4 separate regions of the Homo sapiens genome follow, and regions 1, 2 and 3 are each linked to region 4. The links come from fine-mapping of genetic effects on gene expression. A gene starts in region 4. Each other region holds a variant in brackets. All regions are shown on one strand. Distances are from middle to middle. Region 1 overlaps ELOVL6 (ELOVL fatty acid elongase 6). Region 2 overlaps ELOVL6 (ELOVL fatty acid elongase 6). Region 3 holds the start of LOC124900759 (a long non-coding RNA gene). Region 4 holds the start of ELOVL6 (ELOVL fatty acid elongase 6).

What was found. PIP is the estimated chance that this variant, and not a neighbour inherited with it, causes the effect.
Region 1: its variant is the best candidate, but not a certain one, in a credible set for the expression of ELOVL6 in blood mononuclear cells (TOPMed, PIP 0.58).
Region 2: its variant is the best candidate, but not a certain one, in a credible set for the expression of ELOVL6 in blood mononuclear cells (TOPMed, PIP 0.69).
Region 3: its variant is the best candidate, but not a certain one, in a credible set for the expression of ELOVL6 in whole blood (INTERVAL, PIP 0.83).

Annotation. Positions count from the first base shown.
Region 1 is chr4:110,174,315-110,179,747 of GRCh38, forward strand. The region is part of intron 1 of ELOVL6 (ELOVL fatty acid elongase 6); the gene reads right to left. Among named protein-coding and RNA genes, the nearest start is that of ELOVL6, 22 kb to the right of the region's middle. The variant A/G (reference allele first, on the strand shown) is at 2,381.
Region 2 is chr4:110,148,149-110,153,581 of GRCh38, forward strand. The region is part of intron 1 of ELOVL6 (ELOVL fatty acid elongase 6); the gene reads right to left. Among named protein-coding and RNA genes, the nearest start is that of ELOVL6, 48 kb to the right of the region's middle. The variant T/C (reference allele first, on the strand shown) is at 3,014.
Region 3 is chr4:110,246,508-110,251,940 of GRCh38, forward strand. It overlaps LOC124900759 (a long non-coding RNA gene), which reads left to right and starts at 547. Exons shown (of 3, transcript XR_007058229.1): 1 at 547-671; 2 at 4,125-4,289. It also overlaps the pseudogene HSBP1P2. RefSeq lists a cis regulatory region at 2,260-2,674. The variant A/G (reference allele first, on the strand shown) is at 2,519.
Region 4 is chr4:110,195,726-110,201,158 of GRCh38, forward strand. ELOVL6 (ELOVL fatty acid elongase 6) reads right to left here and starts at 2,890. Exons shown (of 4, transcript NM_024090.3): 1 at 2,522-2,890. The coding sequence starts at 2,610. RefSeq lists enhancers at 588-882, 2,471-3,263 and silencers at 617-726, 927-1,556.

The DNA.
Region 1 (5,433 bases), 21 kb before region 4:
CACCATATGCCCGGCTGATTTTTGTATTTTCAGTAGAGATGGGGTTTCACCATGTTGGCCAGGCTGGTCTTGAACCCCCGGCCTCAAGTGATCTGCCTGCCTTGGCCTCCCCAAGTGCTGAAATTACAGGTGTGAGCCACTGCGCCTGGCCTTCAGGCATTTTAAATATATATTCTCATAATAATGAATGCTTTTACTTTTGAACATACATTTTTTAAAAAGGTCAAATGGTATCTCTTTTTGCCTGTGGCCCTACTGAATCAGACTAGACTTACCAAGTTTTCTATTGACCTTAGAATTCCTGATGTGCTAGGTTGACATTCCTATAATGTCAACACACGTTCACTAAAATGAATTTGCTTTTCTGCTATAAGACCTATTAGTCACAGATGGAAATTCTACAACTATAGAATACATGTAAAGCACAAGAAATTGTCACACTATATAACATGACCTTTACCTACATTTTTACTTTTGCTTCAAAGTTGGCATATTTAGATTTAGATGCACCTAAAACCATCCCAAGAATATAATGCACTAAATGAACAACCTAATTATTCTTATAGAGTGCAATTAACTCATAGGATACTTGTTAGTATCCTATGTATTAACTAATCATTCCTTTCGCTTCTTCTTAATCTAATTTTACGGACCAAATAATCTAAGAATGTGTAAATTCCATGTATGTTATAATTTGTTTATACTATAAATATAATTTATAATTTAAAAAACTAAAAAAAAAAATCAAATCACTGTTGGGCTCATATACAATCAAGACATAAGTATCGGCCAGTCACAGTGGCTCATGCCTGTAATCGCAATACTTTGGGAGGCTGAGGCGGGCAGATCACTTGAGGCTAGGAGTTTGAGACCAGCCAGCCAACACGGCGAAACACTGTCTCTACAAAAAATACAAAAATTAGCCACGCGTGGTGGTGCACGCTTATAATCCCAGCTACACGGGAGGCTGGGACATGAAAATCGCTTGACCCCAGAGGGAGAGGTTGCAGTGAGCCAACATTGCGCTACTGCACTCCAGCCTGGGCAACAGAGCAAGACTCTGTCTCAAAAAAAAAAGACATAAATATAATGTTCTCACCTATAAAATGGAGATGAAAAATCCTATTTTATAGGGTTGAAGGAGACTATGAGATAAAGTAAATGTAGTGTGTAAAATTTTAAATACTGACATATGTAAGTAACATCAATGATAACAACATAACTAAAACATATACAGCATCAGTGAAAGCTTTACATATATTAACTCATTTAATCAATATAACAACTCTTATCAGGTTAGTTTATTATTATTAAACTATGCTTTATAGAAGACTTTTACCCTCTCCAAGGTTACAAAGCTGAACAAGGATCAGAACTCAGGCAGTCTAGCCCTAGAGTTACATTACATCTATCATCCCTCTTTATGATGTTACTATCATATGATCCAACAGAGACAGTAACAGCAAATAAAGTCTAAGTCATGCCTTCATAGGAAGGGTAAGTGAGATCTTTATTATGTGCTGAGTAACTGATGATGAATGATAGATTCCAGTATCAATGGTCACAGAGCTTTCTCAATGTGGGGTCATGTTTTAGGATCTCATGTCATGTAATGTGTAAAACTATTCTTTCTTAATCATTTGTACTTGTTTAAATCATTATTCTTCCACTTCCATTAGGAAGTTTGTATCTAGAGCTCTCCTCATTGGCATAGTGGTGAGTTAAAAAAAAAAAAAAAGAACAAGAAAGTATCTAGAGCTCTATCTTCAGAGATTAAAGAGTAATTTACTCAATAGTTTACATTTAACAACACCATGAATAAATCAATGTTTCTACCTTATTTATTTATTTATTTATTTATTTTTTGAGATGGAGTCTCACTCTGTTGCTCACGCTGGAATGCAGTGGCGTGATCTTGGCTCACTGCAACCTCCACCTCCCAGGTTCAAGTGATTCTCCTGCCTCAGCCTCTCAAGTAGCTGGGACTACAGGCACATACCATCACACCTGGATAATTTTTGTATTTTTAACAGAGATGGGGTTTCACCATGTTGGCAGGCTGGTTTCAAACTCCTGACTTTGTGATCTGCCCACCTTGGCCTCCCAAAGTGCTGAGATTACAGGCATGAGCCACTGCGCCTAGCCTCAAAGTTTCTATTTTTTTAGAAGAAATTTCCATTTGTGAAGAGTCATGTAAAAAGTCCCAACATGATTTTTACCGCAACCTGAAATTGTTTCTTTCTTCTGAGAGTATACATTTTTGTGCTAGCGTGGTCAAAGATAACTTATAGCCAACCCAATCCCCCTCCTTTGCCAACAGATAAACTTTACCCGATATTGTGTGGAGGGCAATGTGCCTGGCCCTTGAGAGACAAAGTGC[A/G]AGACTGGTTTAAGCCTCTCAAGGCGATCACTCTCTTTGTCATTCTTTGTCATTATTTTTGAGATGGAGTTTCATTCTTGTTGCCCAGGCTGGAGTGCAATGGCACGATCTCGGCTCACTGCAACCTGTCTCCCAGGTTCAAGCGATTCTCCTGCCTCAGCCTCCCGAGTAGCTGGGATTACAGGCATGTGCCACCATGCCCAGCTAATTTTGTATTTTTAGAAGAGACAGGGTTTCTCCATGTTGGTCAGACTGGTCTCGAACTCCTGACCTCAGGTGGTCTGCCTGCCTCGGCCTCCCAAAGTGCGAGATTACAGGCGTGAGCCACCACGCCCGGCCTCTTTGTCATTTAAGAGTTGGTGTAGGAAAGCAATCCCCATCCTCTGTCAGTGAATGGTCCAAGAGTGAAACACATCACCAGGCCTGGCTGATGGCATGAAATTATAGCAATAATAAGAGCAGATCTAGGCATGTTGGCTCATGCTTGTAATCCCAGTGATTGAGAGGCTAAGGCTGGAGGATTTCTTGAGGATAAGAGTTCAAGACCAACCTGGGCAACATAGCATGACCCCATCTCTACAAAAAATTTTAGAATTTGTCAGGTGTGGTGGCATGTCCTGTAGTTCAAACTACTTGGGAGGCTAAGATAGGAGGATCATTTAAGCCCAGGAATATGAGACTGCAATAAGCTGTAATCATGCCACTGCACGCCAGCCTGGCTGACAGAGTGAAACATTGTTTCTTAAAAAATAAATTAATAAATAATAATAATAATAATAAAATAAGAGCATATCCTTTTATAAACTTACTGAGTGCAAGTTGGCTTGGAGGCTTTGCCTTGACAAGAAAGCAAATAAAAAGGCTCCCATGCCACTGCTCCTTTCTTTCTGCTTGAGATGCTTGTGTGGGAAGCTTGGTGATATGGCAGCCACCTTGTGACCATGAAGAAAAAACTATTGACACATTATGAATGGCAAAACGGAAACTCAGATAGAACCTAGGTCATTGATAACATTATTAAAACCACTAAACAACCACTGAGGCTTCCAATCAAAGTTATTGTTATGTGAAATAATTAAAAGTCTTCATGTTTTAGGCTACAGTTAATTAAGTTCTGTTACTTGCAGTTGAAAACATCCTAAAAGTTCCCTGATTGGCATAAATGTTCTTCACACCAAACTGATGAGTATTACCCAAAAATGACATAATCCATGAAGAAAATAATCTGAAACTTATTGCATTTTGTACCTGACTGGTCAAACTTAAAACAATTGTAATACTATTATTCAGTATATTTTGTGTTTCTCTAAAGCTACTAGTTTTCTTTGCCCTGTCGTCTAAAAATGATTAAAAAATAATGTGCTACCTAAAAAGAGTGAGATGCATCTCCTCAAGCTTTTCATGTGTCAGCCAGAACATTACATTAAAGAAACAAATTCTCTCATTTACAGTTTGGTGCAGGAAGTATTTAACAACATGCAGAAATATCCATTCTATATATTTCTTAAAAGTTAGGCTACAGAAAAATATGGTATGAAAACTATGATAATATTTTTGTAAAAAAGAAAACGAGCCGTGCACAGTGGCTCACGACTATAATTCCAGCACTTGGGGAGGCCAAGGTGGGCGGATCTTGAGGTCAGGAGTTCGAGACCAGCCTGTCCAATATGGTGAAAACCCATCTCTACTAAAAAAAAATTAGCCGAGTGTGGTGGCGCACGCCTATAGTCACTACTACTTGGGAGGCTGAGGCAGAAGAATCGCTTGAACTGGGGAGGTGAAGGTTGCAGTGAGCTGAGATGGAGCCAAGATCGTGCCACTGCACGCCAGCCTGAGTGACAGAGAGTGAGACTCCATCTAAAAAAAAAAAAAGGAAAATGGGCCAGACGCGGTGGCTCACACCTATAGTCCCAGCACTTTGAGAGGCCAAGTCAGGACTGCTTAAGCTCAGAAACTTGAGAGCAACCTGGGCAACATAGTGAGACCTCGTCTCTACAAATAATCAAAAAATTAGTCAGGTGTGGTGGTGCTTGCCTGTAGTCTCAGCTACTTGGGAGCCTGAGGCTGGAGAATCACTTGAGCCAGAAGACTGAGGCTGCAGCAGCCTCGGTGACAGAGAGAGACTCTGTCCTAAAACAAACAAACAAAAACATAAAGATGGATAAAAAGTTTTGAAAGACTTACACCAAAATGTTAGTGTATATCTCAGGGTGACATTTGTTTTCTTCTTTTCACTTGTGTTTCTTAAATTTTCTACAATGTATTAAAGTTACCTGCTCCAAGCCTATCCACAAGAAGCAGAAAACTACAACTGATAATGTTTATGCTTTTACAAGTGTCTCTGCAAAAGTATGTATTTTTTTATTTATCAAGATGAATCCTAGTAGTTCTCTACGTTAGGTAAAATCTTTAAAAAAAAAAAGATTATATGTATACCTTCATAATTCTAGGCCTCCAGATACATACAATTTAATTGACGAGACAAATAAAATACATGTATGTAAACTTCAGAAAATAGGGCAAAAATAGGCCAGGTATAGTGGCTCATGCCTGTAATCCCAGCATTTAAGGAGGCTGAGGTGGATGGATCACCTGAGGTCAGGAGTTCGAGACCAGCCTGGCCAACATGGTGAAACCCCATCTCTACTAAAAATACAAAAAATTAGCTGGGTGTGGTGGCACATGCCTGTAATCCCAGCTACTCAGGAGGCTGAGACAGGAGAATTGCTTGAAACCGGGAGGCTGAGGTTGCAGTGAGCCGAAATTACGCCACTGCACTCCAGCCTGGGCAACAAGAGCAAAATTCCATTTCAAAAGAAAAGGGCAAAAATATTAAATCATTAAACCCAAATGAAATAAAGAGAAAACAAGAATATTTATTTTCATTTTCACATGAAAAAATACAATTTAAGCTAATATTAAAGACAACTAGCAAGCTATTGATGGTCTGGCCTAAGGTCAATGAAAACTTAATTTATATAATGCTTTGGAAAACTACTTCATTCCAAATGTCCTAGATATTGCATATAAACAAGACATACGGAGCTGTTATG
Region 2 (5,433 bases), 48 kb before region 4:
AACAAGTGGGTTTAGGGTAGGAACAGACATTTTTCAAAAGACAAACAAATAGCCAAGAAGCATATGAAAAAATGTTCAAAATCACTAGTCATCAGAAAAATTCAAATTAAAACCACAGTGAAACATCATCTTATACCAATCAGAATGGCTATTATTAAAGGACAAAAAATACATGTACAACATGGATGGAACTGGAGGTCATTATGCTAAGTGAAATAAGCCAGGCACAGAAAGACAAACGCTGCATCTTCTCTGTTCCCACTTATTTGTACAATCTAAACAGTTGAACTCATGGAGATAGAGAGTAGAAAGATGGTTACCAGAGGCCCAGAAGGGGGTTGTGCGGGGGAGGGGGGGAGGTAGGAATGGTTAATGGGCACATACGTAAAAAAATAGAAGGAATGAATAAGACCTAGTATTTGATAGCACAACAGGGTAAGCATAGTCAATAATTTAATTTTACATTGAAAAATAACTAAGAGTATAATTGGACTGTTTGTAACACAAAGGATAAATGCTTGAGGGGATGGATACACCATTTTCCATGAAGTGATTATTATACACTGCATGCCTGTATCAAAACATCTCATGTACCCCATAAATATATACACTTACTGTGTACCCACAAAAATTTAAAATAATTTTTTTAAAAAGGACAAAAAAATAACAGATGTTGGTAAGGATGCAGAGGAAAGTGAACGCTTATATACTTTTTGTTCTGTTTTATTTTGAGACAGAGTCTCGCTCTGTTGCCCAGGCTGGAGTGCAGTGCTACCATCACAGCTCACTGCAAGGTCAATCTCCCAGGCTCAAGCGATTCTCCTGCCTTGGCCTCCCAAGTAGCTGGGATTACAGGCACAAGCCACTATGCCCAGCTAATTTGTTGTATTTTTAGTAGAGACAAGGTTTCACCATGTTGCTGAGGCTGGTCTTGAACTCCTGGGCTCAAGAGATCCACCCATCTTGGCTTCCGAAAGTGCTGGGATTACAGGTGTGAGCCACCGCACCCAGCTCTTCTGTATTGTTGACGGGAATGCAAATCAATTAGTACAACCTGTATGGAAAACTATGGAGATTTCTTCGAGAACTAAAAATACGACTAACCTTTGATCCAGCAATCCCACTGCTGGGTATACACCCAAAGGAAATGAAATCATTATATCAAAAAGATACCTGCCCTTTTATGTTTATCACAGCTCTGTTCACAATATCAAACATATGGAATCGACTTAAGTGTCCATCAGTGGAGGACCGAATAAAGAAAATGTGTTATGTGTACACAATGAATACTACTCAGTCATAAAAAGATTGAGATCATGTCTTTTTCAGCAACATGTATAGAACCGGAGGCCATTATCTTAAGTGAAACAATTCAGACACAGACAAATACCACATGTTCTCACAAGTGGAAGCTAAATAATTTGTACAGAAGAAGCAGAGTGTGAAATGATGGACAATGAAGACTTGGAGGCATGGGGTGATAGATGATGGCAGGTTGCTTGGTGGGTACGAAGTGTGTTGCTCCACTGATGGATGCAATGAAGGCCTGACTTCACCACAATGCAGTATATTCATGTGACAAAACTGCACTTGTACTCCATGAGTATAAATATATATCTCTTCCTAATACTGGTATTTATCTGCCTACATAGAAAAATCTCCACTTAGAAAAGACCAACATAGAAAAACATGTTGTAAGCACCCCAAAAATAATTAATAAATGTATTCATTTTCAAAGACTGTATCCTATAGATTTTTGAGAGCGTAAATAAATGCCTTCTTAAATCTTGAATTTTTCTTCCCCTTAAAACAAGTACATCATGTAGTGAGAGTGAACAGTTATGTGTTTCAGATTTGAAAAGTAGAAATTTGAATGGAAACTGTTTCTTTTTTTTTCTGCATTTACTTCATGCATTTTATTTTTAGTTTTAGTTTTAGTTTTTCATAGAGACACCGTCTCACTATGTGGCCCAGGCTGGTCCTGAACTCCTGAACTCAAGCAATCCTTCTGCTTCGGCCTCCCAAAGTGCTGGAATTACAGGTGTGAGCCACCGTGTTCAGTCTACTTCATGTATTTTCAAAATAATCCTGAAAATGCATTCAGTAAAACCCCTCCACAAATTCATTATACTCAAATTCATAAGACATTCTCCTTGCCTAAACTGTCAGACTTAAACAGACAGGCGACAAGAAATAAACTCACAAGTTTTGGATTCTTTGCTTACAGATTGATCTAGATGTGTTTGAAATAGTTCTCAATCTAATAAATACCCAAACATACTGGCAATTTCCATATTATTGTATGTTACTACAATTTTTTCTGGCAAAAGGGAATCTCAAACTCATTATCTGTCAATGGCTAATTTCTGAAACAGATGATTTCTCAGCAATTAGGGAATGTTAAGCAAAATATTGTCAAAAATACTCCATTTTTATTTTTAAAACTAAAAATGCTTAAAATTCTAAGAGCAGAATAATTAAAACATTATTCTTGACATTATTTAAATGACTTTAGATACTCTTGCATTGTATGATCCTTTCATTTCCAAGCTTTAATTTTATTACTTAGTGATAATAGATATTCATATTTTAAAATAAAAATACAGTTTTAGGGCCGGGCACGGTGGCTCAGGCCTGTAGTCCCAGCACTTTGGGAAGCCGAGGTGGACGGATCACCTGAGGTCAGGAGTTTGAGACCAGCCTGGCCAACATGGTGAAACTCTGTCTCTACTAAAAATACAAAAATTAGCCAGACGTGGTGGCACATGCCTGTAATCCCAGCTACGCAGGAGGCTGAGGCAGGAAAACTGCTTGAACCTGGGAGGCGGAGGTTGCAGTGAGCCAAGATCGTGCCACTGCACTCCAGCCTGAGAGACAGAGGAAGACTCCGTCTGAAAAAAAAAAAAAAATTTAAAATATAAACTTTAACTTTGAAATTCTTAACTGAATTTCAGCACCTTTTAATTGCATAAATTCTACATGACTAAAGATTTCAATATTTTTTAATACAGGT[T/C]GAGTATCTTTTATCCAAAATGCTTGGGACCAACCAGAAGTGTTTCAGATTTCAGATTTTTTTTTTTTTGGATTTTGGAATATTTATATATACATAATGAGATATCTTAGGGATGAGACCCAAGTCTAAACACAAAATTGATTGTTTCATATACACCTTATAAACATAGCCTAAAGGTAATTTTATATAATAATTTTAATAATTTTATGCATTAAACAAAGTTTTGTCTGGACCTACAACTTGAGGTCTGGTGTGGAATTTTCCACTTTTGGTGTCATGTTAGCACTCAAAAAGTTTCGGAGTTGAAGCATTTCTGATTTCAGATTTTCAGATTAGGGATGTTCAATTTGTACCATTGTTATATTAATGAGTTGCCAATAAGATCAGTATTTGGGTTTGACCTATGGGATAGATGCTTGGGTGTGTCAGAAGACTTCTATATATGTAATTATTTACCAAAAGGCCAATAATGATGTTGAGATTTGACATGCCTGCCCATTAAGAGACAGCATTTGTGGGCCATAAAGAAGTCTAAAAGGCAATCTTGTATCATAAATAAGAGATGGACTTTTGAATGAGAGATCCTAGACTTAACACCTGCTTCTCCCACTTACTAGCTGTACAATGTTTGGTGAATTACTTAATCTCTTGGTTTCTGAGTTTCCTCGTCAGTAAAAAGGAGATTTTAAAAGTCCGTTGTTGCCTAGGACTGCTGTGAAGATTAACTTAGATAATGGATTGTACAGGGTACATTTAATCATCAGTCAGTGAATATTAATATTACACAAGTTATAGCATTCAACAACTAAAAAGTCCTTATCTGAAAATATTGGCATCTCTAAGTTCTAAACTGGGTAGAAATCCTAGATGTAAAATAAAAGGGAGTTTAATACAGAGTAACAGTAAGATAAATATTCATGAGAAGATTCATTCTAAATAGCTGACTGCTATTGATTTGGCTCTTGGCCCTCCCATATGCCCCCCCAAAATATCTTTAAAACTTAATATTGGTTGGGTTACCCTATAATAAAGTTTCCTTAAAGACTATCAAGAGGGCATACCTTATGTCATATCAAGTCCTATTATGGACACTTCTCTTTGCAGAGAATTAACTAAATACACGATCAGAGACAAAATGATTGAGGAAAAAACCCATCTATCACGGTAGAGTCTCCTGTATTATTTCCTGGCATTATATATATAGCTGCTATTGTCATCCTATTAGAATTATAAAACCTTTACTTTCCCAAATCTTACCTCTCTGACACCCAGCTCAGGATCACCTTTGTTTTAAAAAGAACAAAGGGTTCTCTCAGTCACTGAATGAGAATTTATTCCGTGAAAATACAGATAGTGCCACGCCCGGCCTTTCTGCCAGGCAGTGATGCCTGATACCAGAGCTTCTCACACTGTGGATATATTTGAACATATGAAACACCTGGGAATCTTGTTGAAATGCACATTCTGATTCAGTGGGTCTGGGGTGGGGCCTGCCTGAGATTCTGCATCTCTGGCAAGCTCTGCAGTGATGCTGCTGGTTCACATACACAGATCACACGTAGAAGTAGTGAGGATTGTGACAACCAGGTTGCTATATATAGTGTATGTGAGTGTGTGCGTACACATGCACTTATGTTAGAAGGCTAAAAATATTTCAGAAAATTTTAGAAGGGGAAAGCATTTTACTGCACTGTCCTAGAAACCTTATTTCAAAATGAACATTTCATTCTTTCAAAATTTGCTTTTTCAAATTAGCAAAGACAATCCTTCGTCTCTCAAAAGGAGGATGCCAAACCTATGTGACCCCTCCGTGAGTATAAACACTGGTCTATTGAAGAGCAGGAATGACACAGTAGTTGACGAACCACTTCTTTTTGATGTGCCTTTGGGTATGGTTTTGAAAATAAGAAATTCACATTTTAATGATGATCAGGCAGCACAACCTGTGTCAGCTTGTAAGTAGGAAACCAGAACCCTGACAGAGATGAAGAAACAATTATAACCAAAATGTACATTATGAAAACTTTCTGGTATCACTGTTAAGATTTAATAATAATAGTGAAAAGGGAATTATAATTACAGTAAAATTGTGGTACACATACCATTCTGCAGAAAGTAGGTAGCTTCCATAACTTATGAGACCTTATACATAATTTAATTTTTTGCTCAAAATATTAATCTTCAAAATACAATGACAGCAATTACTACCTACTTATCTCTTTTGAGTGATTTAAACTTTAATAGTGTGATAATTTAAATGCTACTTATAGATGGTGGGCTAAAACTTAATTGATAATTAATAGTGGAGGATTAAAAATTGCCACAGTTACAGATGATGAGAAATGTACTTATTGACATAAAATCCAACAAGGGTGATCAGCTGAAAATGCCATGTAAAAAAAATTATAGCCAATAAATGC
Region 3 (5,433 bases), 51 kb after region 4:
TCAAAAAAAAAATTCATTAATTAATTAAAAAAATAAAAAAACAAATTAAGTTCTTGCTAATTTTGTCTTTTCCTCCTTCTTATAATAAAAGGAATTTTTGCATATAAAAAAATCTGTGGAAAAATGCTGGGTGCAATGGCTCACGCCTTAATTCCAGCACTTTGAGAGGCCGAGGTGGGCAGATCACTTGTCAGGAGTTCCAGACCAGCCTGGCCAACATGGTGAACCTCCATCTCTACTAACAATGAAAAAATTAGCCGGGCATGGTGGTAGGTGCCTGCAATCCCAGCTACTAGGGAGGCTGAGGCAGGAGAATTGCTTGAACCCGGGAGGCAGAAATTGCAGTGAGCCGATGTCACGCCACTGCACTCCAGCCTGGACATCAGAGTGAGACCCTGTCTCAAAAAAAAAAAAAAAAAAAAATCTGTAGAGAAGTATAAAGAAGGGAAGGGGATAAAAAAATCATTCAGAATCCCATCCCACATTTTTCCCATGTCAATGGATAGCTGTGTTTAAAAATAAAACTTTTATATCTCATGCTTCCCCTTTCTTCACTTCTTTATCACATTCTTTTTTTTCCCTATGAGTTGCTGTTTTATAGTCCATTCTCCTGAACAGAAGGTAATAATTTCTGCTCCATGGAAGCAGGGATATTTCAGGAATCAACAAAGGTATGTGAAAATGATTTAAAGATTCCTAAATCGTATGCAAACATAATTTTCTCTTGCTCCCAGTTTTCTTTTTTTATAAAGCTCAGAATTTGGATGAGATGTTCTTCCCTGTGGTTGTTCTGGTTTAGAGTCTGCACCCCTCTTTGTTAACTGGTTAGCTCATATTTCCACCAGGTCCCCTTTCCTCTCTGTGTCTACATAGAATAAATTATCAAGTATTATGGTGTGAAATAGAATTTTGTGATAAAAACTAAGCATCAAAATAATATTACAATAAAACAAACTTTTGTATCTTGTGGATATTGTTATATTTCCTTAACTGTAGTTTTGTTTTTTGAATTATGTTATTTTACCTTGCTATATATTAAGTTTGCTTGAGATTTTCAGCTAAATTCCCTGAGATGAGCTAGTCTTTGCTGTTCAGCCAGGTTTGGAGGTTGTGTGAAACGGGTCTAAAGATCACACCACCTGAGGTCTATTTCCTTTTTTTTTTTTTAAGACGGGGTCTGGCTCTGTCACCCAGGCTGGAGAGCAGTGGCACAGTCATGGCTCATTGCAGCCTCAACCTCCCAGGCCAAAGCCATCCTCCCACTTCAACCTCCAAAGTAGCTGGGACCACAGGCATGCGCAACCATGCCTGGCTAATTTTTTTTTTTTTTTTGTGGAGATTAGATCTCCTTATGTTGCTTTGCCTTGGCCTCCCAAAGCATGGGGATTACCTGTGCCAGCCACTGTGCCTGGTCTTGAGATCTGTTTCTCAAGTATTATGCCACATAGCTTAGAGGTGGAGGTGGGGCAGACAGCCTAGGGGGCTGACATTTCATCTGCACTTCATTCTCTAAGCAGCACATACTTTGCAGATGTCTTTTTCTAATTTCCACGAGAGTGCCCTATGGGCTAGCAGTGACCATGGCTGGGTTGTTGAGGGGGAGGCAGAAGGTCAGTGTGGTCCTTGATGTCATCTGCTGACACTGGCATCCCTTGGAATAGCTGTCATCCTGTCTGGTCCTAAGATGATAAACCATGCAATTGCCTAGACGATCCACATTCCCATTTCCACAGGCCCTTTCTTTTCATCACTCTGTACTGCTTTGTGCTTCTCTGGGGGTGGGGAAGGCATGGAAATTACCCTGCTCTCATGCTGTTCAGGGCACAGGGAAGCTTCTGCCATTGTGTCTGGTACCATCTGCCCAGGCACACTATGCAGTCATTTCTCTTCAGAGCCTCTGCCTGAGCAATGGGGCCAGGTTTTTATTTCTTCCAGAGACTACCGGCCTATCTAGGGGTTTTGACTCCATCCTCGACCTCAGCCAGTCGTGAGCGGTGCAAGATTAAACAGGTCCACGCATGTGTGTGTCTTTCCACAATGTCAGGCTTTTATTAATGCTATTCCAGTCCACGAGCTACATGGAGTTCCCAAGGAGGCAATTCTTAGTACTTCCTGTTCACTCTGTAGTCAGAGCCATGGGCACACAGACTCAAGCCACTCCACAAGTCAGTCAATATTGCAAACCATATATAATAGTATATTTCATCAATATAGAAATGTTTTAGGTTAAACATTCCATGACAAACAAAGTAACATTTAACATCAAGAGGAAAAAGAGATAGGAGAAAGGATTAATGAACCAGTCCAGTGGGAGCTAAGAAGACAAGAGTCCTGGTCACACCCTGGGGTCCCTTTGGTCTCGAAAGAAGAGTTTTTGAGGTGGCAGAGCCTTCGGTGGCAGGTGCCAAATTCTTATCACAAGTGACTGCAAGACAGTCAGTTAAGACAGCTGTTTTCGAGCTGGAGAAGGTCTAATCCTTTACAGTCACAGAGTTCTCTGGCAAGAACTGATAGTGGA[A/G]GAGTACACTTGTTTACATCCTTATCTGGTTGCCAGCAGTCTTTTTTTAATTTGTTTGTTAAACAGAACATCTTATCCTTGTTGGCAAAGTGCTCTATGAAATATAAAATGGAGTCCTTTTTCTTCTTCTTTGAGACGGAGTCTCAATCTGTTGCCCAGTGAGTGCAGTGGCACAACCTCAGCTCACTGCAACCTCCGCCTCCTGGGGTTCAAGTGATTCTCCTGCTTCAGCCTCCTGAGTAGCTGGGATTATAGGCGCCTGCCACCACGACTGGCTAATTTTTGTATTTTTAGTAGAGATGGGGTTTTGCCATCTTTGCCAGGCTTGTCTTGAACTCCTGGCCTCATGATCCACCCATGTCGGCCTCCCAAAGTGCTGGGATTACAGGCATGAACCACCATGCCCAACCAAAATGAAGTCTTTTTCTAAGATGGAATTAGTTATGTCAACTACACAGCCCAAGAGCTGGAGGCAAGTTTCCTCTTTTTGGGACCCATTAGACTCTCTGTTACCACTTCTCTGTTTCCATTGAAGTAAGATAAACTCTTCCTCAAGGCTGAGGACTCTTTTCTAGTCTAGAGGCTGAAGACTGGAGAGAGAAGGGGTAAGACTGGGACATTTCCCTTTTACTCATGTGTTTTCCTCAATATACTGTATGTAGCATGGCTTCTTTTTGACCTCTAAAGCACTTAAGTTTTATTTTTTCATTTTTTATTTTATTTTTAGTTTTCTTCTGCTCACACATCCCAACTGCCTGACCTACGTTTTAAAATCCCAATTCAAGAATAAACTCCTTTAAAGTTTGTTATCTGCTGACACATCCTTCTTCCCAGTCAAGGAACACAGAACAATCCATCTGTCTGAGTGGTGGTGGTGGTTTGTGGGTGAGGAGGCAAAGGGCAGGCTGGAGAAGAAGATACCACCATCCCGCCCATGCATGGGGTATGCGGGTATGGCAGTGCCTTAAGATTTAAAAATATTTAATACATATATTTTTTCTTGTGCTTTTTTCTTTTTTTAAGTCTTAACTGATGCCTTTAAAGGAGTATTTCCTCTATTTAAATAATGTAAGAACCCTTGTAAAATGAAGATCATTCGGCATATCCCTGGGGATGAATCAGATTCATTGAACTGCGATTGTGCAACTGTGCTTTCAGGCAGAGAGTGCTCAAAGGGTAGAACGGCTCTTTTGGAATTCTCAGATATATTTGGCCAGGTTTACCTAGAGGAGAACACGTTGTTTTTAATGAAAGGGATTTAAAGTCACAGTGCACCTTAAGGTGATGACTTTCTGAATGGATGCTCTTTCATGAGACCCAAGTTGCGAGGGTGAGTGCAGGATTGTTTCCTCTTGGAGGAACCCTGATAATCTCTTTGCCTCTCTTTCCTTGAGATGCTTTTCCTTCCATGAAATTTCATGGAGGTGAGGACAAGTCAGCTTGGAGATCATCGTCTTCCTCTTTTGGGCTGTCTCTTTATTCTCTCTTTGGAATCAATCACTTCTAGTAATCCAGAAAATTGGGGAAAGGCTGGGGTGTTTCTTATTGGGAAGAAAGTTTTTTTTTGCATGTGTGTGAGAATGTTTTTCCTTTTTTTTTTTTGCAGTATAATTTACATGCAGTGATATGTACAAATCTTCAGTGAATGGGTTGATGAATGTTTGCCTATGTATACCTACATGTAATCACTACTCAGATCAAAATAGACAACCTGTTCACGACACTGAAAAGTTTTCTAGAGCCCCTTTTCAGTCAAGACCCATTCCTCCAGGTAACTACTATTTTGATTTCTGTCATCTCTTGGGTGGGCTCTTTGGCCTTGTGTGGGTTTCTTCTCTTCTAACAGCTGGTGAGGTAAGCTGGCCCTGCTATTCCCCAGGCCTGAGAAGAAAGAAGCCAGTCTCTGGGAATTATTTAGAAAATTCCAGCCCTCCTCTTCTGTCTTTCAGAACAGAACTTTTTGTTGGATAAGCTTTTTGTTGCTGCTGTTTTTTGGTGGATGGGCTTTTCCTTCTGGAGTGGAAAAGTCTGAGGCTCAAATGCTTAGGGAGAAAGAGCCAAAGTAGGTCCTTTGGCGTGTTTTGGTTCTAGGCTGCACTTGGTTGTCTGAGACAAATTATTTCTCCAAATAGCCCATGCTAATTTATCAATAATAATGCTTTTACTATTTTTCACAATCTACATTCTTCCACTCAATAATATTAATACCCTATCTACTATAATCTATGGCTGGCAATGATGATGTGGATTTAGGTTGTAATAGATGTAATATATGCTTTGACTTGAAAAATGCTGTTAGGGATGTGTAGGTGCTGAGATGTAAGCACTATAATGCTTATATTTTGTTCTGAAGATTTCTTTAAGGATTTCTAAACTCACTGGTTGAAGGGCTGAAACACATGAGACACTGGGGTTGAAGAAGCCTAGCCTAGCAGACACTTAATTTATTCCAACCCCAGTCTTGATGGAGGTTGATGCAAGCTGTTGAAGAAAGGACAAGACTTGACCCAAGCACCTGAGGGTGGCCTCCAGTTGGGTCAAAGAAGAATAGGAATTTGGGAAAGTAAAACTGTGTTTTTTTTTGTGTGTTTTTTTTCAGGAACCAGCAAAGTTTTAATGTTTAATCGTTAATAGCAAAATTGACCAAGGTCCAAGATGTGAAGATACTATGTTTAAGAAACTGGGGGGTAAATCACTCTATAGACTAACTATATAGTATGTGATAAGAATGCACACTTTTTATAAAACCTGTATACACATAGTAGTTAGCTGCAAAAACCCATTCAATCTTCTCTTGGCTTGGAAAAATGGTGTTCCAGATTTCAGTATAAATTATTAGCAACCTTCACCTCTTGTGTGGCAGGTATCTTGTTTTTACTTTCCAGTTCTTCCACCCCAGCCTGTGTCATGAGATC
Region 4 (5,433 bases):
TTCGGGTATTAACGAGTAGTGCTGGCAATAAAATGGGCACCAATCACCATTTCAACTCACTGGACATTTTCTCAAGAATGTGCCTTATGCAAAGCACTCTGCTAGGTGCTTTGCAGAATCAAGAGTGGGATGACAAGAACCGTAACCTGAAGAGCTGATGGTCTGTAAGTTAATAACCATGTATATAACAGTAAAGGATATTGCCAGAAGAAAGGTACAGATAAAGAACTAGGAGGAAACAGTGGTCAGAACCTAACAGGAGTAGATACGTTGGCACATTTTTGTCATTTTCAGTCCCACGAGGGCTGAGACCTGTCTGGCTCAGTACTGAGTGAATGGAGAGAAGAGGCGGGAAATGGTACCTGAAGCAGGCCTAGGAAGTGGCCTCAGAGAAAAAGCAACAAGTAAATAAGAGGCAGTATCGACTGCAGTGGGCTAGGAATGGCGGGCGTACAGTGAATGGGGTCAGCCAGCAAAGCGAGGGAAAGCGGACTCCGGAAGAGCAGGTTAAACCAGGACGCAGCAAGTCAGAGATTCGGCACAGAAGCAAATGCTGACCACACTGACCACACAGGCTAATGCGGGAGGACTGTGGGCCCGAACAGGCCGGCTGGAGGATATGACAAACATGTGCGGAGAAGACCCGGGCCCGGGGCTAGCCAGCAGCGCGGTTCCGGCGCCCGCCGGCTCCGGCCACCGCCCCCTCCCCGCCTCCAGCACCACCCCCTAAGCGGGAGGAGGAAGTGCATCCAGAGAAGGACCCCGGGCGGTGGGGCTCGAGGGGCCTCGGCTGCCCCGAAACGCCGAGGTCTATCTGCGGTCTCGACCCTTAGTGTCCAACCTCCTTCCGGACCCACCCCTGCACCCCCTGGCCTCAGCGGCCCGGGAGGGCACCAGCCCTGTGCCTGTGTGGCTGCTGCACTTCCAGTCCTTCCGAGCGGCCCGCGTCCCCGCCTCTTAGGCTCCGGCTCGGGCCAGACGCGGCCCTTGGGCCCCTAGCCCACCGCCGCCACCAGCCACGCCGCAGCTCACCCCAAGCAGGCCTGCCCCGCCGGTGCGCGCGGCCCAGGAGGCGGGCTCCGCCCGGCAGCCGCCGCAAATGGCCATTGGGGCCCGGACCAGCCCGCGGGAAGCTGGGAGTGGGCGCGCTCCGGCCGGGCGGGAGGAGAAGGAAGCGGCGGCCGGGCCTCCCGACACTGGCCGGCGACTCCAGGGGGCTGGAGGACAGGAAGTTGAAACCCCCTTTTCGCAGCTGCGGCCCCGTGGCACCAGCTCCTACTGCACCAACCCGCCCAGGCCACAGGCGCGCCGGCGTTTCTGGTTTCCAGTTGAAGAGGGCAGGCGGGAGGGCGCGGGGCACGCGCGCTCGCGCACGCGGCGGGCGGAATCCCCCGGCTCCCGGGAGACCCTGCGGCCCGACCCTCCCCGGTCAAGCCATCCCCCGGGCTGCCGGCCCCTTGCCTAGCTCCGGGGTGCGTTGGGCTTGAACTTTACAGATCGCCAGACCCGAAGTTAAGGGGAGGAGAGGAATGCCTCTGCCACAACCCTGTCTACAAGAAGCGAGATGAGCACACCCTCCTCTGTTAAATATTGCAAGGTGACACTGGATCGCCTCCCACACAGGGATTTTCAAAAGGTCTGGCGGGGGGACTACAGTAAACAAGAAAGGTGTTTTCCCTGATTATTAGTTTCCTAGGGAAGAGCCCCTAAGGACTCTGCAGACGGAGGGGCTTTTAATCTGTGTGCCTGAACTCCAATCAGCAGCTACGCACAGAATTAGAAGTGTGTCCAAAAGGCGTTTCCGTAAAACAGAAACTTAATAATGGCGTGGCTCCACTCGCTCGGGTTCATTCATTTATTACTGTTTTCATTGTCCCCTCCTCCCTCCCACCCGGTCTCTCTATGAAACCGGAAAGGGAACCGCGTGGGGAAAGGGGTACTAAAAAGGGGGCATCCGCCTGAGGAGCGGCAGACAGAGGAGGACGGTGAAGTAGGAGCGCTGCAAGGAGAAAGGAAGGACACGAGGGATGGAGAGACAGCGAGGACCAGGGCCAAGGGCGGCGGGCGGGAGAGGGTTAAAGGCAACAGGAGACAAGGTCCTCCCTCCACTGCCTTTCACACTCCGGTTGCGGGAGAGGCCAAGCGAGAAAACCCAAATCTAGATGAAAACCGGGGGAGGGGAGGGGAGCACAGGTAGGCGATCTGGACTGTGGCATCTCTCCCGCCTTCCCTGTCGCGCAGACATCACCCTGTGCACACACATATGTTCTGTGTTATATAATCTATATAAAAGATGCCTATGTAGCCGCGGTTCACACAGGGGCACCCACAGACCTCGCGCTTCATGTACCCCCCCCCCCCCAGCGTCTCCTGCACCCGGGAGACCCGAGAACTCAGCGATCAGCTGGCTGCCCGCGATTCATCGCTCCATTCACGCCCAGGCAGGGAATACCGACATTAAGGCACTCCGGGAAGACGCGCAGGGCTCCCGGGAACAGTATCAGGCGAAAGCATCACGTACCAGTTTTCCTGCATCCATTGGATGGCTTCATTCTCGTTGAACTGCTTTTCGAATTCATATTCTTGTAAAGTCAACACTGACATGTTCATTGGGGCTGATCTTCGGAGTCGCTACGTGTTCTCTATACAAAATAAAATAATCTGTAAAGCGCTTGATTTCGAGTGTTCTCCTGTCTGCTTCCCCCACCCACCCCCCTAGGTCTTCCCCACGCCGCTCGGTCTCCAGCGGTCGTCTCTTCTCCCAGCCTCTCAGCTACATCCAGGGCTGAGCATTGCCTGCGCCTCCGCTCCCAGCTCCTCTCTCTGGGGCTCTCCTCCTCCCGGCGTCCGCATCCACCGTAGGAGGAAATGAATGCCTTGCGGTCTTAGTGCCCGCACGTTTGTCCATCACCCTTTTTACTCGTCTACAGGGAAATCTCCTCCCCCTCGTGCGATTTGAGAAATTAACCCTTGGCGAGGGAGTGTGCGAAAGAGCGCGACCTCTCTCCGCCCGGGGGGGACAGTTTTGTTTACAGCGAAGGTGGTTGGAAGAGTGGGGGAAGGGCGCAGAGAGAAAGGAAGTGGCCTGGAGGTCATCCAGATCCCCTAAGCCCAACCTCGTGGGCCGCCTTGCTTTGAATGAAGTTTCAGCTTGCAGGGCGCATCCCCGCGGCGCGTGGACCCGAGAGCTTGGCGAGTAAACGATTGGGAAATAGTAAAACCTGCCAGCTCTCTTGCAAGAGAACTCCGGGCAAATCTACGTTGAGATCACCAGTGAAGGGAATACGCTTCCCACCTCCTCGCCCTACCTCTGGGACCACCCCCACCCCTACCCCCACCCCCACCCGGGAGCTCTGGCTTAGATTCACGCTAACCCAGGCCCTGCGGACGGCAGAGCTCCTTAATCTCGTACAGACAGGGGATGCTGAGTGTGAGGATAGTGGATAGGCGAGAGAGGCTAGTAGCCGGAAGTGGAAGAAAGGGCTGGGTTAGGTGGAGGGTTTAGGTACCGGGAAGGGGGGGATTAATGAACAGAGGCAGAGTGGGGAAGGAAGCTGACAGGAGAACTGGACCGACTGGCCAAATGCAAAAACTTTATTTGCATGCATGAGAAATTTGGCTTTACTTGCTGTACTTGTAGGTAGAACAGAATATGTGAGGAGAGGGCTGAATGTACTGTTGACCCCTACTGGGCCCTCAGCCTCCAAGAGGAAAAACTATTTTCTATTCCATCCATCCCTCCACTCATTTCCCCCAAGAGTTTGGAAAAATGAAATATGAGACATGGAAGTATCTAATGATGTAATTGTAAACTTTACAAAATAATAAGGAGCCCTGCTTTTAAAAATTAGGTGGATATTAGGACCAGAAAGAAAATTCCCCTTCTGAGAACATCCCCCCACCTCCCCAGTAGTCCAAAAAGGGTACTTTCATTCAATTTAGATGCCTCTAACCCACAAAAAGTGGGAACTGGGAGAAAAATTTTTAAAGGAGGAAGGGACCGGCCGCGGTGGTGGCTCACAGAAGTAATCCCAGCACTTTGGGAGGCCGAGGTGGGCGGATCACCTGAGGTCAGGAGTTCAAAACAGCCTGGCCAACATGGTGAAACTCCGTCTCTACTAAAAATATAAAAATCAGGCAGGCGTGGTGGCGGGCACCTGTAACCTCAGCTACTCAGGAGGCTGAGGCAGGAGAATCGCTTGAACCCGTGAGGTAGAGGTTGCAGTGAGCCAAAATTCTGCCACTGCACTCCAGCCTGGGCGACAGAGGGAGACTCTGTCTCCAAACAAACAAACAAAAAAAAAAAAGAGGAAGGTCTAATGAGAAAGTAAAGAAATAATTTTTAAAATCCAGTACAATATATAGATTAAAGGGCTAGCCTAGTTGATTAGCAAATTAATGTATACATTGACACTGCCAAAGATTCTGTGTAGGGACTGTCCTCATCTCCCCCATTAAGGGTTGTCTTTCTTTTTTCTTTTTCTTTTTTTTTTTGAGATGGAGGAGTCTCGCCCTGTTGCCCAGGCTGGAGTGCAGTGGTGCAAACTCGGCTCACTGCAACCTCCGCCTCCCAGGTTCAAATGGTTCTCTTGCCTCAGCCTCCCCAGTAGCTGGGATTATAGGCAAGCACCACCACGCCCGCCTAATTTTTGTGTTTTTAGTAGAGATGGGGTTTCACCATGTTGGCCAGGCTGGCTGTGATCCACCTGTCTCAGCCTCCCAAAGTTCTGGGATTACAGGCATGAGCCACCATGCCCAGCCAAGGGTTGTCTTTCTAGAGACCTCTACAGTACAAGTCTACGTCACTTTGAAGTAAGGCCCAGGCCAAAACTCTTGGCAAGATTGGGCTGGAAGATAGGTGTGGCCAGATAAGAAAGAACCATTTTAGCACGGTGCCTGAGCCTGTGAATAATCAATAAATATTTGTAAAGTGAATGATTCATCAAATAAATTAAGGTAAGAAGTGAGAAAGGAATCAAGACAGAAAATCCACTTTGGGTGGCTGAGGCAAGACAATTGCTAGAGACCAGACTGGGCAACATAGTGAGGCTCCATCTCTACAAAAAATTAAAAATTAGCCAGGTGTGGTGGTACATGCCTGTAATCCCAGTTACTCTGGAGGCTGAGATGGGAGGATAGCTTGAGCCTGGGAGGTCAAGGCTGCAGTGAGCCATGATCACACCACTGCAGTCCGGCTTGGGTGACAGAGTGAGACCTTATCTCAAAAACAAACAAGCACTGTCAGTGACTTTGAAAACTGGTGACTCTGTATGGAAAGCAATTTGGCAGCCTATATGATAATTTCATTTATTTTTTAGAGATGGGGACTTGTTATGTTTTCCACGCTAGGACTATAGGCACCCAGCATATATCACAATTTTAAATCCACACCATTAATTCACCAGAATTATTTTTTTTTTTGAGATGATGTCT